2 separate regions of the Homo sapiens genome follow, and region 1 is linked to region 2. Evidence: fine-mapped expression QTL. A gene starts in region 2. The other region holds a variant in brackets. All regions are shown on one strand. Distances are between the middles of the regions.

What was found. PIP is the estimated chance that this variant, and not a neighbour inherited with it, causes the effect.
Region 1: its variant is the best candidate, but not a certain one, in a credible set for the expression of ZNF84 in whole blood (Lepik 2017, PIP 0.74).

The regions. Positions count from the first base shown.
Region 1 is chr12:133,223,582-133,231,913 of GRCh38, forward strand. It overlaps ANHX (anomalous homeobox), which reads right to left. Exons shown (of 10, transcript NM_001372060.1): 3 at 7,936-8,063; 4 at 4,243-4,366; 5 at 3,355-3,571; 6 at 2,737-2,857; 7 at 1,955-2,247. Among named protein-coding and RNA genes, the nearest start is that of ANHX, 8.1 kb to the right of the region's middle. The variant T/C (reference allele first, on the strand shown) is at 4,671.
Region 2 is chr12:133,032,384-133,040,715 of GRCh38, forward strand. It overlaps ZNF84 (zinc finger protein 84), which reads left to right and starts at 5,126. Exons shown (of 5, transcript NM_001289971.2): 1 at 5,126-5,162. It overlaps ZNF84-DT (ZNF84 divergent transcript), which reads right to left and starts at 4,839. Exons shown (of 3, transcript NR_110091.1): 1 at 4,386-4,839; 2 at 1,670-1,720; 3 at 276-921. It also overlaps the pseudogene PTP4A1P2. RefSeq lists an enhancer at 4,743-4,832 and a silencer at 5,053-5,232.

The DNA.
Region 1 (8,332 bases), 190 kb after region 2:
ACAACAGGCACCACCACCATGCCCAGCTGATTTTTAAATATTTTTTAGTACAGATGGGGTTTCATCATATTGGCCAGGATGGTCTTGATCTCTTGACCTCATGATCCGCCTGCCTCAGCCGCCCAAAGTGCTGGGATTACAGGCGTGAGTCACTGCACCCGGCCAGGAGACCTTATTCTTTAAGATTAAAGTCTTAACAGCAAGATGAAGTAAAAAGACCCACAACCTCGGACCCTCAGCGTGAAATTTCAGAACTTTAAGACCCACCCCCCCAAAAAATAAGAAAAAAAGAATCTAAGAGCTCCAAAAAATTATGAGGGGGGGAAAAGCATTTCAACTCAGAATTCTGTCCTTGCAAAATTGTTAACCAAACTTGAAGACAGATTAAAGACATTTTTAGAACAAATGAGGACTCGGATAATTTATCTTGCAGGCACTCTTTCTTGCAAAGTTAACTGAAGCTGCTGGCTAACAAAACAAGGGAGTCAAATAAAGAAAGAACCAGACCTGAAATTCAGGACACCCTGGAGTAAACCCAGGGAAGCAGCATGGGAGCACTGGGGACAATAGCTTCACTCCAGGCCTAGGGAGCTGTCACTTGGAGGGGAAAGGGAAAATGGAGGGCCCCCAACAGTGAGTTTTCAGATGGGATGCTTCAAATGCTGGAAGATGTTAAAAATGTGATAAAAGCAGACAATGTAAAAAGAAAAAGGAAAGGCATGGAGAAGCTCCAAGAAGAAAAAAAAGCTGAAGAGAAAAGATGTATATACCCATAGAATATTAAATATAGGTAAATTTGGCTGGGCATGGTGGCTCACGCCTGTAATCCCAGCATTTTGGGAGGCTGAGGCGGGTGGATCCCTTGAGTTCAGGAGTTTGAGACCAGCCTGGCTAACATGGTGAAATGCTGTCTCTACTGAAAATACAAAAAATTAGCCGGGCGTGGTGGCAGGTGCCTGTAGTTCTACCTACTCGGGAGGCTGAGGCAGGAGAATCGCTTGAACCTTGGAGGCAGAGGTTGCAGTGAGCCGAGATCGTGACACTGCACTCTAGGCTGGGTGACAGACCAAGACTCCATCTCAAAAAAAAAAAAAAAAAAAAATGCTGGGCGTGGTGGCTCACGCCTGTAATCCCAGCACTTTGGGAGGCCGAGGCGGGCGGATCATGAGGTCAGGAGATCAAGACCATCCTGGCTAACAGGGTGAAACCCCGTCTCTACTAAAAAGTACAAAAAAATTAGCCAGGCGTGGTGGCGGGCGCCTGTAGTCCCAGCTACTCGGGAGGCTGAGGCAGGAGAATGGCGTGAACCTGGGAGGAGGAGGTTGCAGTGAGCCGAGATCACGCCACTGCACTCCAGCCTGGGTGAGCAAGACTCCGTCTCAAAAAAAAAAAAAAACAAAAACAAAAAAGAAAGAAAGAAATTTGGGTGAATTCATAGCTCCAGTTTCCTCCTTACAAAGTGAGAAGTCTCATGATTCTGGTGTACTGGATGGGCAAAATATACATCTAAATACATACTCTTTAAATGATTTTACAGCTTCAACGATAACTTAGAAGCTAAAATCATGGGATCTCTACTACAGGCTAAGGGGGGTGGACAAGCGGGGAGTCTAAGGAGCTCAGCCTTCTCTGCTGCACCCGGTGTTAATAGATAAATCAAGTGGACTGCAGTGGAGAGCACAGGGTGGCAGCTCTTTCCTTTCAACTCTTCCTCTTCAGTGATATGCATACATACACACACACACACACACACACACACACAATAAAACAGATGAGAAATAATCTGGGATGTTTGTGGGAAGAGTCTTTGTTCTGGCTACATTGGTTCCAGGTCTAATCAAATACCATGGGTTCAAGCCGTGTGGCCCTACCCACACTTCTATCCCCTCAAACAGGACCTGAGTAGTCACAGTGTCTGGTGCTGAAACTCATGGTCTGTCTGAAGTGGACCCACCTGTAGGGCTGGGATCTCCAAGGGTGGCAATGGACACAGCCACAGCGGTGTCTGCAGGGCCCATCATGAAGTCCAGCCCATGGCTGTGGACCAGCTGCCCAGTCTGGAAGGAAACTTCCTTGGAGGACGCCAGTGCAAGAGACATCAGCCAAGATTCAGGGGCAGCCAGAGAGGGGTTCAGCATGTCATTGCCAGCAGCCAGAGGGCAGAGGCCAGGGCCAGGGCAGAAGAGGGGGAGGGTGGCAGGATCATGGCCAGGCCCCTCCTGGTACATCTCGCCACCTGGCAGAGACCTGGGGGACATGGAGAACACTGTCTCTTGGTGGGCAGAGCCTCCCTCAGGGCAGGGCAGGAGGGAGCACAACGGTGCTCAAACAGTGCTGGTGTGCAGTAGGAACTCAAGAGATACTGGCTGGTATTAACTCAATGAAAAGCAAAACAGACAAAGTACTAGAAACAAACCACAGGGACAGCTGGGTTTGTCTTTAGGTGGCAGGGCTGCATGTGTTTCCTTCTAAGTCTGTTACCCCGTTCTCCAAGACAGACATGAACTCAGGTGATGAGTCAGGCTGCAGGAGCACGTGTGGGTTCAGAAGAAGCCACCCCCACCCCAGTCCCTGACGTGGGCTCCTTGCTGGTGGCTTCCCTCTCCCTGGGGTCTGACCTGATCCCAGTGTGGGGGTCCTGTCACCCTTAGGCCTACTTCATGCCCTAGTCTCCACCTGAGGAGGAAAGGGAACTGAATAGGTGAGATGATTCCATGGCCATGGAGATGACAGTACCTGACATCCAGTGGCTTTGAGACTGTCTCATCTGCGGGAAAGTCCGGGGCTAAGGCCAGTGGCTCCCATGGTCCTTGGGTGGTCTGTGGGGACTGTGGAGGCCCCTTTTCCTCACGTTCCTCTGAAAGTGATGAGATGGGAGGGGAGACTTAGTGAGGCTCTGGTTCCCAACCTCCTTCCCATCAGGTATGAGCAGCCCTGCTGGCTGGAAAAGGCTGTTGCCATGGGGCCATCCCAATGTTTTTGCTTCTTGTCCTGTCTTTGGTGTGAACCAACAATCCATAATTGCCAACCCAGGACACCCCAAATCCCGGTGCTTGGTTCACTTCTCAAATTGACTCACCAACTCCTCCTCTGGCCACACGATGCCCTCCTCTCCAGCCCAGCTCCTGGCCCGGCCACACAGTGACCTCAAAATGCATAGGGGCAGCCACAGCCCAGCCTGGGCATCTTGAGCCTCAGACCTCGGACCCTGTGATCTTGCTCCCACAGAGTGACACCTGGAACCTACTGATTGGAGGAGGGCTACCCCTGTAAGCAGTGTGACTACCTAGGCCTGGCCCTTGTCAGAAACCAGCTCCCCGACCACAAGGAGACTGGGGCCCTCAGGCCACTCACCTGACCACTGAGGCCTGTCCACAAACCCAGAGTCAACACGGGGGTTGCCTGAGGGCTGCAGGAGGTCAGGACCCCTCTCCCTCGCACCAGGGTCTTCAGCTGTGGCCTGCTGGGCTGGCTTCATGTGCTGGGGAAGGGCTCTTTGGCGGCGCCGGTAATTGGCAAACCAGTTGTACACCTGCTCAGGGGTCAAGCTCGTCTCCAATGCCAAGTTCTCCTGCCCCCAAACAACAAGACTTCTAGCCCTGCTTCCATTCCCTGAGGACAGGGGGTGTGCAGAAGTGGCTCAGACAGCTCATTTACACCAAGAAAGGGGGTGACAGCCCAGCCTAACCTCTCCAAGGACAGCAGAGAGCGGTGAGCATGAGCAGAACATGCAGGCCTCACCTCCCTGGGCTGATCCCCATCCCCTGAGCAGTGAGGCCCAGGTCAGGCTGTCTGCACAGCCACATGTGCACGTCCCCCTGAGTGGGGCCCTTGCTAGGTCCACCCAGACAACATGCCCAGGGCCACCCCAAGCCCCTGGAGGGGCAGGGCCTGCAGAACCACACTGCCTGTGCCTGGCACAAACCCACTGTGCAGTGGAGAGCATGTCAGCTGGCAGATGCCTCGACCCATCGTCCTGGTGCCTGGCACACAGTGGGTGCTGAGTGAGCAGCCGTGGGGCCACATACACAGATGTTATGACTCCACGTGAGAAAATGAAACCCTTTATGTGGCAGACAGGACAGTCTGCCAATCAACAAGGTCCCTGTCCAGAGGAGGGGCTGAAACCACCAGCACCCTGGCGGATGAGGCCACTGAGGAGCCTGGGGTGGGGGTACCCCTTGGGGGACAGGGAGGCACCAGGCAGGGACCCCCTGGGTCCTGGGTATCTTCTATTCTTACCCTCTCAGCCTTGCTGGGGTTGGTGTTCACCCCCACAGCGAAATTGTGCAGCTTCTCACGAACCTCTCTGGGGAAGTTCCGGCTCTTCAGCCCCTCTGGGCAGAGGGAGGGGGGCGGGGGGTTCCTGGGTAAGGACAGTGAGGAGGTGGTAACAGACAGGACCCCTCCAAATCTGTTCCCTTCTCCAGGCCTGGCCCTCTGCAGAAGGTGACACTTCCTTCCCTGTGCCTCCTCCTGGGGGATGCCTCTCTCTGCCTCCAGTTAGTGAAAACTAGAGTCTCTTCCACAGACATGCACAAACCCTGACAAATACTGTTCCAGAACATCTACAGGCCACTGTGAGGAGCCCTCTGTGGGCCCTTGCAGTGCTCCTGGGTGCATCTCAGCCCATGGAGCCCCGATGGATGGCCCTCCTGGACATCCTCACA[T/C]GTAGACATCCTCATCCATGGAGGCCGCGTGCACAGCCTTCCTCGTACTCACACACAGGTGTCCTCAGCCCATGGAGCTCCCGTGGATGGCCCTCCTGGACACACACACACACTGTTGTCCTCAGGACCTGGCTGCCACCCTGGGTGCTTTTCCATTCAGTGCTTTCTGTTCATCGCTGGTTTCCAGGCATCAGCCCCATTCTTGCATGAGTCCTCTGAGGCTTGCAGCACTCACACCCCTGCCACCCTGCATGGCCACGCCAGCTTTCTCCCTTCGTCTCTCACCCCCAAGACCTCCTCCCAAGACTTAATGTCCTTGGGTGATCTGGCTCTCATTTCACCAAGATGTTCTCAGAAGAGAAGCACCACCTGTGCCCCCAGCAAACCTGCCAGCCCTTCTGCACTCCCCAAATGCCTGTGGGGCCCCTGGTGAGGGGAGGCTCCAGCCGTGGCACCTGCTCATCCCCCATCTCACTAAGAACACTCCCCTGAACTAATTCCCTGCTTGCCATCACCAGCATTTCTTCTAGTAAGTCATTCTCATGAGCTGCTAAGCTCTGTAAATTTCTCACCTCCAGTGGTGATCCCATGAGTCTGCTCCAGTTCCAGCTAAACTTCTCAAAGAATGATCTTGGATCACTGCCACTGTCTCCTTGTCTCTGTGACACACCTGGATCCTTGCACCTTGCCACTAAAAGCACTTGCCCAGCTCACACAATCCGAAGTTCATTTCTCAGCTCTCCTCTTAACTGGCACCTCCTCAGCCTCACTGGCTTCTGAACTCTGCACTGCTGGATTTCCTCTTCCTCTCACTGGCCATGTCTCAGCTGAATCTTCCTCATCCTCCTCTGGGCTGCAAAGTCCCAGAGGTCTGTCCCCTGAACACAGAGGACCCCTTTCTCTGTGCGCTCCCAGGATTTCAGTATCAGTCACAGAGATGACAAAGGGATGCGTGTCTGAGCAATGCTGGAGTTGGACACTGGGGGTGTTCCAGCTGGTTATGCTCCTCTCTAGTGCTGAGCAGATTTGAATATTTCATAAGGAAAAGATGATATATGCACCAATATTACTTGTCTGTAGAAGGTGTGTCATCCCAGTGCCTACTTGGACATCTAAAATGCATCTCGCACATCATGAATCCCAAAAGAACTCCATCCCCCCTCTCCAGACTTTTCCCCAGCTCCTGTGCATCTCAGTGAAGGAACCCTCATGCTCCTGGTGGTTCCCACATAGGCCAAGAGCCCTGGAGTCTACTTTAGCCCTCTCTTTACCTCCTGCCATGTGTACAGCCCATCAGCAAACCCCCCAGCTCCACCTCCTGTGTCAGGGTACTGACACAACACTCTCCACTTTCCCCAGCCACGATCCCAGCCCTGGGCATGCCTGGAACCTCCTAGAAACTCCAGCATCTACTCCTGATCCCTGTATCTGCATCTTCTGTGACTCAGATGCCATCCCTTCCTGACACCACCCGGGAACCATCAGCATGGTCATAACCCAATCCAGCAGCTACCATGGCTGCCGGCTCAATGTCCTCCTGCTGCTCATCAGCCTCTAAGGCAGGGTGAGCGAATCCATTCCAACACCTGCTTTTACATTTTTCAAGGGCTGTGAACACATACACCCCAAAATACTTCCCATCTGCCCCTGAACACCAAGCTTCTCTGATCCCAAGTCTTTGAATGTGCTGCCCCTTCCCAGAAACTTCTGCTCACATGGCTGACACATCACCATACTCAAGACTCTCCTCCAAGACTAGGACCAGCCTGCACTGACCACCCCATCTAAAGCAGCCAACCTTGCACAGCCCTCTTCTGGACATATTCTCTGCATAGCACTTCTCACTCTCTGAATTATGTGACCTACTTTATTTTCTTGTCTGTTGACTATTGTCCACATCCCAATGTCAGTTCCATGGAGGCAGAGCCTGGCCTTCATCCCCAGCACCTCCCAGAACCCAGCAGGCAGGGGGTGCTTAACAAACATGTCGACAAGATGACACCACTGCACTCTGGCAGGTGTCAGCATGCCCGTGGGGGGCTACAATCACATCCCCTGAAGACCCCACAGCTGATTTACTGCTGGGCTTCTGACGACTTGTCTTACTCTGTCACTCTATTTGATGGGTACCACGCAAGAAAATTCTCTGAGCCCAAAAGGTATCCATGTCTTCTTCCTTCAGCGACCAGTATTCTTACCGACCAGGCCCTGTGGCTCAGGAATCTTTCATGACTTGGGCTGTCAGGAGTTCACAGCAAGATCTACAGCCCTTTCCTGACCAGTGGAGAGCACCTGAGATGAAGAATAAGGCTCCCCGGAGTTTGAGACCAGCCTGGGAAATATAGCAAGACCCTGTCTCTACAAAAAATTAAAAATTAGCTGGGCATGGTGGTCACAGCTACCTGGGGGGCTGAGGTGGGAGGATCGCTTGAGCCCGGGAAGTTGAGGCTGCAGAGTTGTGACCGCCCCACTGCATGCTAGTCTGGGCAACAGAGCAAGACCCTGTCTCAATTTTTTTTTTAAAGGCTCCAATTTCTCAGTGTCTGGGCTAGCGTCCTGGCTTTGCAACTCTCTCTCGTGTGGAACCTCAGGTTACCCTTTCTGTGCCTCCGTTTCCTCATCCATAAGTGGTGATGATGGTGATAATAAAAATTACTAGTAACATTTATTTAGTGCTGATAATGGTGGCGATGATAAGGACTACCACTTATTTAGTGCCTATCATGTGCCTGGCACTATTCTGAGCGCCTGACATGTAACTCATGCTAACACTGGCAACATTCTCACCCTTAACTCTTTGAAAGGCCTTGCAACCCCTCAGTGGCCACCCAGAGCCCAGATTGTGGGGATTAGATGACCTGGGGACACATGTTGAGCTGTTCCCACCTGCCCTCCATCTCCACTGTCCCTGGCCCAATAGCCCCCTTTCTGGCCAGTCCCTGGGTGGATGCTGGGCAGAGATGATGAGGATGCCCACCTCCTGGCCTTAGCCTCAGTCACCCTGTGGTCAGCCATCCGTTTCCAGCCATCAGCTGACTGAAGTGGCTGGTGGAGAGTGTAGCTCAGTGACCAGCATCCAGCACAGGTGTGACACACACTGAAGTCATCTTATGCTGACTACACTGTGACTATTACTGCTCCGGCGGACATTTCCTGTCCCTATCTCCTCACCTCCACTTTGCTTCAGCCCCTCTGGGCTTTGCATGGTACATCTAATCCCTTGGGATCCCCATGAAATATGCACAAGTAAATGCTTGTAGGTTACCTCTTCCTGCAGCGGAACTTCTGCACCGGGGTGAGCGCAGCCACGCCCAGCCTCCTCATGACCAGACGGTAGTGGATGTCGTTCCAGAGCTGCACTAACTCCTGGCTGCCTCCCGGCACCTGGCACCCCTGCCAAGAAGAGTGTACTGAGCCCTGGCCACCTGCCCACCCTGGAGCACTGTTGGGACCTGCATCTGCCATCCCAAACCGACTCAGCCTTGGGGAAGGCAGTGATGGGAAGAGCAGGGTTCTGGGTTCAAATTCACTGATTTTACAAAGTGCCAGTGTGGCCACACAATGCAGGCATGAGTCAGATGGCCCCCGCTCCATTCCTAGCAGGCTCAGCGGTGTGACCCTAGGCCTGCCAGGTCACCTCATAGACCTTGGGCAGATGCACT
Region 2 (8,332 bases):
AGGTAGCAAACAAATTTGCTATTTTTATAAAATCTAAAATATATTTTAAAATTAATTTTTTCATGTAATTGAAGTGATTTTATTTTCCCCTTAACTTACTGCGATGGTAATATTAGTAGATTTTCTGATCAACTTTGTGTTTCTAGAATAGAATCCATTTGCTTATAGTATATTTTAGCAATGCACTGCCAGCTTCTCTCTGTTAATAACTTCTCAATATTGATGCTTGCATAATCTTAAGTTTGAGGTTTCTTTTCAAATCATACATTCATCAATTTTGGTATCTTTATGCTATTTAATAAATAGAAAATTTTCCTCCTTTTAATTCCTCTGGAATTGTTTTTTCAGCTTTACTAAAGGTATATCTGACAATTTAAAATTGTGTCTAGGGAGTGGCTGGAGTGGCAGCTGGGCAGCAAGACTAACTCTGGATCCACCAGGCCAGGTGTCGTGTACAGAGGCTGGGGCAGCCATCCCCAACTCCAATGCCCAGTGCCCAGCACACCAGCACTTTCTGGTGATGTTGCACATTTATGGTGATTCTGAGTGTGGGAGCAGACTTCTGCCAGGCTTAGCACAGCATTTTCACCGACAAATGAGCTTTGAGGTTCTACGTGCTGTCATTAATACTACCTTGAAAACTCTAGACACCAAGACTGGCCTCAGAAATAGATACCTTTTTAAAAAAATTGCAAGTATATTTCTTTTAACGATTCCAGTAAAATTAAGCATCAAGTAAACAAAAGTGGAAAGTGACCTACACTTTAAACTTGTTGAACTAAATGTAATAAAGGCTGCTTAAGTTTTTTATGTCCTTGGATTTTTTGGAGTCCAGAGGTGTCCATCTGCAGAAATTGAGGCCCAAGTTGAATTTGGATTCCAGTGGATTCTGAACAATTCTGCTTATCTTGAAGACAGAAGCTTCATAAGGAATAGACAAGTTAAATAGAAAAAACACTGATCAATAGGCAGTTTAGTGATCTAAAAATAAAACATTAAAAAGTTTTCTGCTGTGAAACATTTCAAGATTTATTGATTTTTTTTCACTTTCCCCATTACACTCACACACATGCTCACACTTTTTCTTTGCCATAATGGACTGTTCAGCCCCTGTGGAGATTTACAGGAACATGCATTTTCTCATAACCCACAAGTCTACCAGTGCCACTGCAACAAGTTCACAGAGGAATGTGAGACGTGTGGAGTGACACCTTTGGTTTGAGTTTGTGATGCTACATTTGGTAAAGTTCCAGTTGAAAAAGAAGGAATCCATATTTTAGATTGGTCTTTTGACGATGAAGCTCCACCACCTAATCAGATAGCAGATGACTGGCTAAACCTGTTAATCACTAAAGGGCGTGAAAAGCCAGGTTGCTGCCTTGCAGTGCATTGTGCTGTGGGATTGGGAAGGGCACCTGTGCTGGCAGCGCTTGCTTTGAATATGGAATTAAGTATGAAGATGCAGTTCAGTTTATAAGACAAAAAAGAAGGGGAGCATTCAATTCCAAACAGCTGCTTTACTTGGAGAAATGCCGACCTAAGGTGCAATTACACTTCAGAGATACCAGTGGGCATTGCTGTGTTCAGCAGAAATGTAAATGAAGACCGGCTGGATTGTGGCATTTTAGAGGAACTCTTAGTACTTGGAAATGTGAATCTGGAGTCTTACCTGTATCATCCAAGTAGTGATAGACTCAGTACTCAGCCACTCTCCCAATAGCTGGAAAAATGCAAACAAAAAAAGAAATCCCTCTATAAAATCAATAAAATGTTTAAGAAAAGAAAAAAATGAGATAAAATTGTATCCAAGATGACAATGGGATCTTTATATATATATATATATATATATATCATTGTGAAGTGACTGACACAATCAAGCCAGTGAATGTATCCATCACCTCACATAGTTACCCTTTAGGTATGTGTGATTAGGGTATTTCAGGCTTACTCTAAGTGAATTTCAAGCGTACAACATATTATTAACTGTCGTCACCATGCTGTCCATTAGGTCTCCAGAATTTATTCATGTTATAACTGCAAGTTTGTTCTCTTTTTAAAACATTTGACCAACATCTCCTCATTTCCCCTACTTGCCACCTGACCTCTGGTAACCACTCTTCCACTGTTTCTATGAGTTCGACTTTTTAAGATTCCACATCTACGTGAGATCGTGTAGTATCTTCTTTCTGTATCCGTGTATTTCTATGTGTATTTCACTTTGCATAATGTCCTCCAGGCTCATCCATGTTGTAGTAAATCACAGAATTTTCTCCTTTTTTGAGGCCAAGTAATATTCTATTGTGTACGTATACTACATTTTCTTTATCTTTTGATAGATGCTTAGGTTGTTTCTACATCTTCACTATTGTGAATAATGCTGCAATGAACAGGGGAGTGCAGATATCGCTGAGATATCTTTTAATTTTATTTATTTTGGATATATACTGCTATGATTTGAATGTCTATGCCCTCTGAAAATTACGTTGCAACTAACCCCCATTGTAACAGTGTTAGGAGAGTGGGAAAGCTGCCTATGGCAATTGAGAGGTGGGACCTTTGGGAGGTAACTAGGATTAGATGAGCTCATGAGGGTGGGCATTAGTGGCTTTATAGGAAGAGAAAGAGAGAAATGGGCTCGGCTGCTTGATCCCCCTTCACAGTGTGCACCCTGGACTGACCTGGGGCTCTGCAGAGAGTCCTGCTAGCAAGGAAGTCCTTACCAGAAGTGTCCCTCAACCTTGGACTTCCCAGTCTCCAGAACTGTAAGAAATAAATTCATTTTCTTTATAAATTATTCAGTGTCAGGTATTCAGTTACAGCAATAGAAAATAAACTAAGACAGAAAATTGGTACTGAGGAGTGGGGCTGTTGCTAATAATAAATCCTGAAAATGTGGAAGTGGCTTTGGAACTGGGTAATGGGCAGAGTTTGGAAGAGTCTGGAGGAGCAGGTTAGAAAAGGCCTAGATTCTGGTGAGGGATTGTCTCAAAAAAAAAAAAAAAGAAGAAGAAGAAGTTGTGAAACCATGCCCCCAAATAGTTAAAGAAACCAGTGACTAACGAATTTTTTTTTTTTGAGATGGAGTCTCGCTCTTGTCGCCCAGGCTGGAGTGCAGTGGCGCGATGTCGGCTCGCTGCAATCTCCACCTCCCAGGTTCAAGCGATTCTCCTGCCTCAGCCTCCCGAGGAGCTGGGATTACAGGTGTGCACCACCACGCCCAGCTAATTTTTGTATTTTTAGTAGAGACAGGGTTTCACCATGTTGGCCAGGCTGGTCTCGAACTCCTGACCTCAGGTGATCTGCCCGCCTCGGCCTCCCAAAGTGCTAGGATTATAGGCGTGAGCCACCGCGTCCGGCTAACAGAAATTCTTGAGCTTACAGGATGGCAGATAAGAAACAGTTTGCTGAAACTCCGTTTGTAATATAATACAACTGGCTGAAATCAGTTGAAACCAATATAACCAAACGGAGTCCATGCAGAATGAGCTTGCTGATGTCGCAGCCTGAATTTCCACTGCACTTTTCACACTAACTCTACCTTAATTTGCACATGGGACCCAAGAAGAGGCTTGAAGAGACAACTGCACATGGTCGGGGACTTTCCAGACTTCCTTTTTCCTTCACCATTCACCTGTGAATCCCAGAATCCACCCTCTAAACCTTTTTTCACAATAGTGCTGCCTTAAGGGCAGCACAGAGAGATAGATTTGAACTAAACTCCTGTCACTTTGTTGGTCAACTCGCAATTAAGCTTTTCTTTTCTCAAACGCCTGGTGCCATAGTATTGGCTTCTGTGCACATCGGGCAATGAGGTCTTTTGCGTAGCAGTATTTGGATATCCGGTTTCCTCACGCTATTTATTGAAGCGACTGTCCTTTCCCCATCGTGTATTCTTGACACAAGATTAGTTGACTTGCCTAAGATTAGTTGACTGTATATGCATGGGGTTATTTCTGGTTTTTCTACGCTGTTCCACATTGGTCCATGCGTCTGTTTTTATGCTAGTACTTCACTGGTGAGTTCTACCTCTGGGAATAAATATAAGAATTCTCTAATCACTGGATGTTTGAAGCAATTCACTAAGCAACTCATTATGATGCTTTCTGGCAAAGGATCTCTGAATTTGTCTTCAAATTGTGGATAAAATTGGGTCAAATTTGGCCCATGTTGTCCTGGAGAATCATTTGTGTCACAAATTATCAAATTTATTAGTATAGAGCGGATTTTCATTCAATTTCCTATGTGTCTATGGTTATTTCTCTTTTTTCATCTCTCTCCTCCATCTCCCCGGCCCCATCTTGCTGTCATAAGCATCGTGACTTACCTATAATTCTCCCTACGACTCCAGTTATGGATCAACTTTACTTTTTTCTGTTAATTCTTACCTTCTTTCCATAAATATATTTAAATTTTTTCTGGTTTCCTCAACTGAAGTCAAACCAATTGAGTATTGGTGGGCCGGGCGCGGTGGCTCACGCCTGTAATCCTAGCACTTTGGGAGGCCAAGGCGGGCGGATTGCCTGAGCTCAGGAGTTCGCGACCAGCCTGGGCAACACGGTGACTCCCCGTCTCTACTAAAATACAAAAAAATTAGCCGGGCGTGGCGGCGGGCGCCTGTAGTCCCAGCTACTCGGGAGGCTGAGGCAGAAGAATGGCGTCAACCCGGGAGGCGGAGTTTGCAGTGAGCCGAGATCACGCCACTGCACTCCAGCCTGGGTGACAGAGCGAGACGCCGTCTCAAGAAAATATATATATATATTGGTGGATTCGGTTTCCCTTTATGTTTCTCAGAAAACCGTGTGAGCCCGTTTGGAGTCACTCCGTCTCCAAGCGACAGGCACTTCCGGACGCGGGGCACTGTGGGAAGTTGAGTTCGCGGGGCTCCTTCCTTCGCGCATGCGCACATGCACTCTTGGTAATGCTTGCAGGTGGCCCGTTCTTCCTCTTTGTCCTTCGCTGCCACGTGAGAGGGGAGTGTACGCGTGTGCGCGCGTGCGAGTGTGCGCGTGTGCAGTCCCCGACTCGTCCCGGCCCGTTCGGAGCCGCCCGGGAGCGCACAAAGGCCGACGGTTTGGGCGCGTGCGCGGGACACGGGGGACGGGCGGTGTCACGTGATCGCGAGGCCGCGGGCGCGCGGGCGCGACTCGGCGGCGGCGTCTTTTGTGAGTTCAGTGAGTTTATTGCGGGCCCGGCGCTGGGGGCTCCGGGAATGGCGGGGGAGGCGCGCGGGAGTGGCCGCGGGGAGCTTCGGCTTCAAGGCCCTGGGCGTCCGCGCGCGGATGCGGGTCTGGGGCGGGTTGGGGCTGGGCCGGGTCGTGAAGATGCCGTGGGCCGCGGAGCTGCGCGGATTCTGGGCTGTGGGGCGGGCACGGCCTTTCCGGAGGCGCCGCTCCTGGGCGTCCTTTCAGGCGGGCGTGGAGGCGCCAGCCTCGGGCGCGTTTAGCCTCGGGCGCGTTTAGCCTCGACCTCGGGCCAGCCCGCTTGCCGCGCCGTGGCCCTAAGGAGCGGCTGCCCTGCTGGACCGCATCCACCAGCAGCCTGGCTCTGCCGCTATCGAAGGAGGCTTTTAAAGCGCTGGGGTTACAGGTGTGAGCCACCATTCCTGGCCGTGTATTTTTTAATGGTTATATTTATTGACTGTTTTAAATTTTTTAAGTGACTTTTGCTTTTGGTATGGTGTAGCGAAATCTCCCCTCAAATTATACATATATTCATTCACCTGTGGTTTTTTTTTGTAGACATTCTTAGGGTTTCCATTATTTTAAAATTTAACCCACTGAAAGTAGTTGTATGAAATAGCTACGTTTATTTTCTTTCAAATATTCTTGTATTCATTAAATAATTTAATTTTACTGATGGCTTTGAAATGCTACATTTATTGCATGCTGACTCTTGCATATTTAGACAGTTTGCTTTTTTTCATCTGTATAACTTCTCTGGAGCCAGTGTCAAATGTTATAATGATTATAATTTGTATGTATTACAGTGGGCCTGTTCACACTCATTATTTTGTATTTCCAAAAGCATCCAGGCCCGGTGTGGTAGGGCATGCCTGTAGCCCCAGCTACTCTGTAGGTTGAGGTAGGAGGATCACTTGAGCCCAGGAGTTCAGGGCTGCAGTGAGCTATGGTTATGCCATTGCACTTCAGCCTGGACAACACAGTAAGACCCTGTCAAAAAAAAAAAAAAAGTGTCCGAATTGTTCTTGAACCTTTTTTCTTACACATAAACTTTAGAATTTTGAGATTCTGATTGGAGTCGATGAGTTATATAAATCATTTGAGGTCAAATTATCTTCACAATCTGAAGTCTTCCTATCCCAGAATAAAATCGAATTATAAATTTCTTTAATTCTATTTTTATAGTTCTCATTGGTGTTTTTAGTATGCTTCATATGGGTCTTGATATTCCTACATATTTTATGTATTTTGTCAATTATGAGTCGGATTTTATTTTTTTGTTATTTTATGTGAGTTGTTTATATCTTACAGAAATAAGGTTATTGACCTGGAAAGATGTTCTTCACATAATGGGAAAAAAACAAAAACAGCTTTTAAATATGACCATATGCTTCCATTGTATGAAAAATATCACAATAGTTTCCATCATCCTAAGAATGGTTACCTGTGGTGAGATCATAGATAATAGTTCTTATTTAGCTTGTGTATGTTTTTTATATTTTGCCATCATATATTACTTTTATAATAATAATTATAGCTAGTATATGTTTCGTATGACTGTGTGCCAGCTTTTGTTCTAAGATTTATGTATTATCACAATTTAAGGTATAAAGGAGTCATTTCTTGTATAACTGGGAGAAACTGCTGTGTGTTTCTGAGTTGGCACTGAAGTTTGAACCACAAAAAGGCATGAAAAAGAAAGTGCTGCTTGTTAGTGTGATACAGTTGAGGCAGGGCGTCCTTCATTTATATTTTTGTGGGAATTAGTGACTGAATGTGTGCATGGGAATAGGAGCTGACTCCAGGATTTATGTTGTGTGTGTTTGTGCATGTAGATATGCACAAATGACAATATGACTTTAGTATTCATGCTTTGAACATAGCAGGATAGAGAATTAACATTTGAATTTTGCTACTTACTAAATGTGCAATCACAGGCACATTTTACAATCACTCATTGTCCCAGTTTTCTCTCTGTAAAATGGAGATTATGTTAAACGCCTTATAGGGTTGTGCATGAGTTAAATTTAAAATGCTTAGTATATTGTCTCACATACAGAAAGCACTGGAATGTTAGCTGTAACTGTTATTACAAGGCCCCAGTCGCTTTCCTTTTAACACCTCATTTGTTTCTTAGACTCCCATTGTGAGGTCCACTTTATCTTCACCATTTTAGCAAGTACAGAAATTGAGGCTTTGAAGGCAAGAAAGGAGGGGGGAAAAACAGTAACCACAATAAACATTAAATGTATTCAATTTGTCAGTTAAAAGACACACTGTTGGTTTGGATTTTTTTTTTTTTTTTGAGATGGAGTTTCCCTTTTGTTGCACCAGGCTGGAGTACAATGGCACGGGCTGCAACATCCACCTCCCAGGTTCAAGCAACTCTTCTGCCTCAGCCTCCCAAGTAGCTGAGCTTACAGGTGCATGCCACCACGCCTGGTTTATTTTTGTATTTTTAGTAGAGATGGGGTTTCATCATGTTGGTCAGGCTGGTTGAACTCCTGACCTCAGGTGATCCATCTGCCTTGGCCTCCCAAAGTGCTGGAATTACAGGCGTAAGCCATCGCTCCTGGCCAATTTGGATTTTTTTTTTTTTAAACACCAATAAATTTGAGCTCTGAGCTGCTTATAAGGGACAAAGATAATGATGCTAAGATTTTTAGTGTAGTTGACCAGATGATAACATACCACGTAAATACCAAAAGAATGCTGAAGCCAGGTGTGGTGTTGTATGCCTATAATCCTAGCACTCTGGGAGGCTGAGGTGGGAGAATTGCTTGAGCCCAGGAGTTTGAGACTATCCTGGGCAGCATAGCGAGATCCTGTCTCTACAAAGAAAAAAAATACAAAAACAGTTAGCTGGGCATGGAGGCACACAAACCTGTAGTTCCAGCTACGTGGGAGGCTGAGGCAGGAGGATCCCTTGAGCCTGGAGTTCAAAGTTGCAGTGAGCTCTGATTGTGCCACTGCATGCCAGCCTGGGTTAGGGAGCAAGACCGTACCAAAAAAAAAAAAAAAAAAAAAGAATGCTGATGTTGCAGACTTCATCTAAGATAAAATAGATTTTAAGGCAAAAAGCATTATTGGGGGTATGAAGCGTTGTTACACAATGATTTTTTAAAACCCCTATTTAACCTTGACGCATCAAA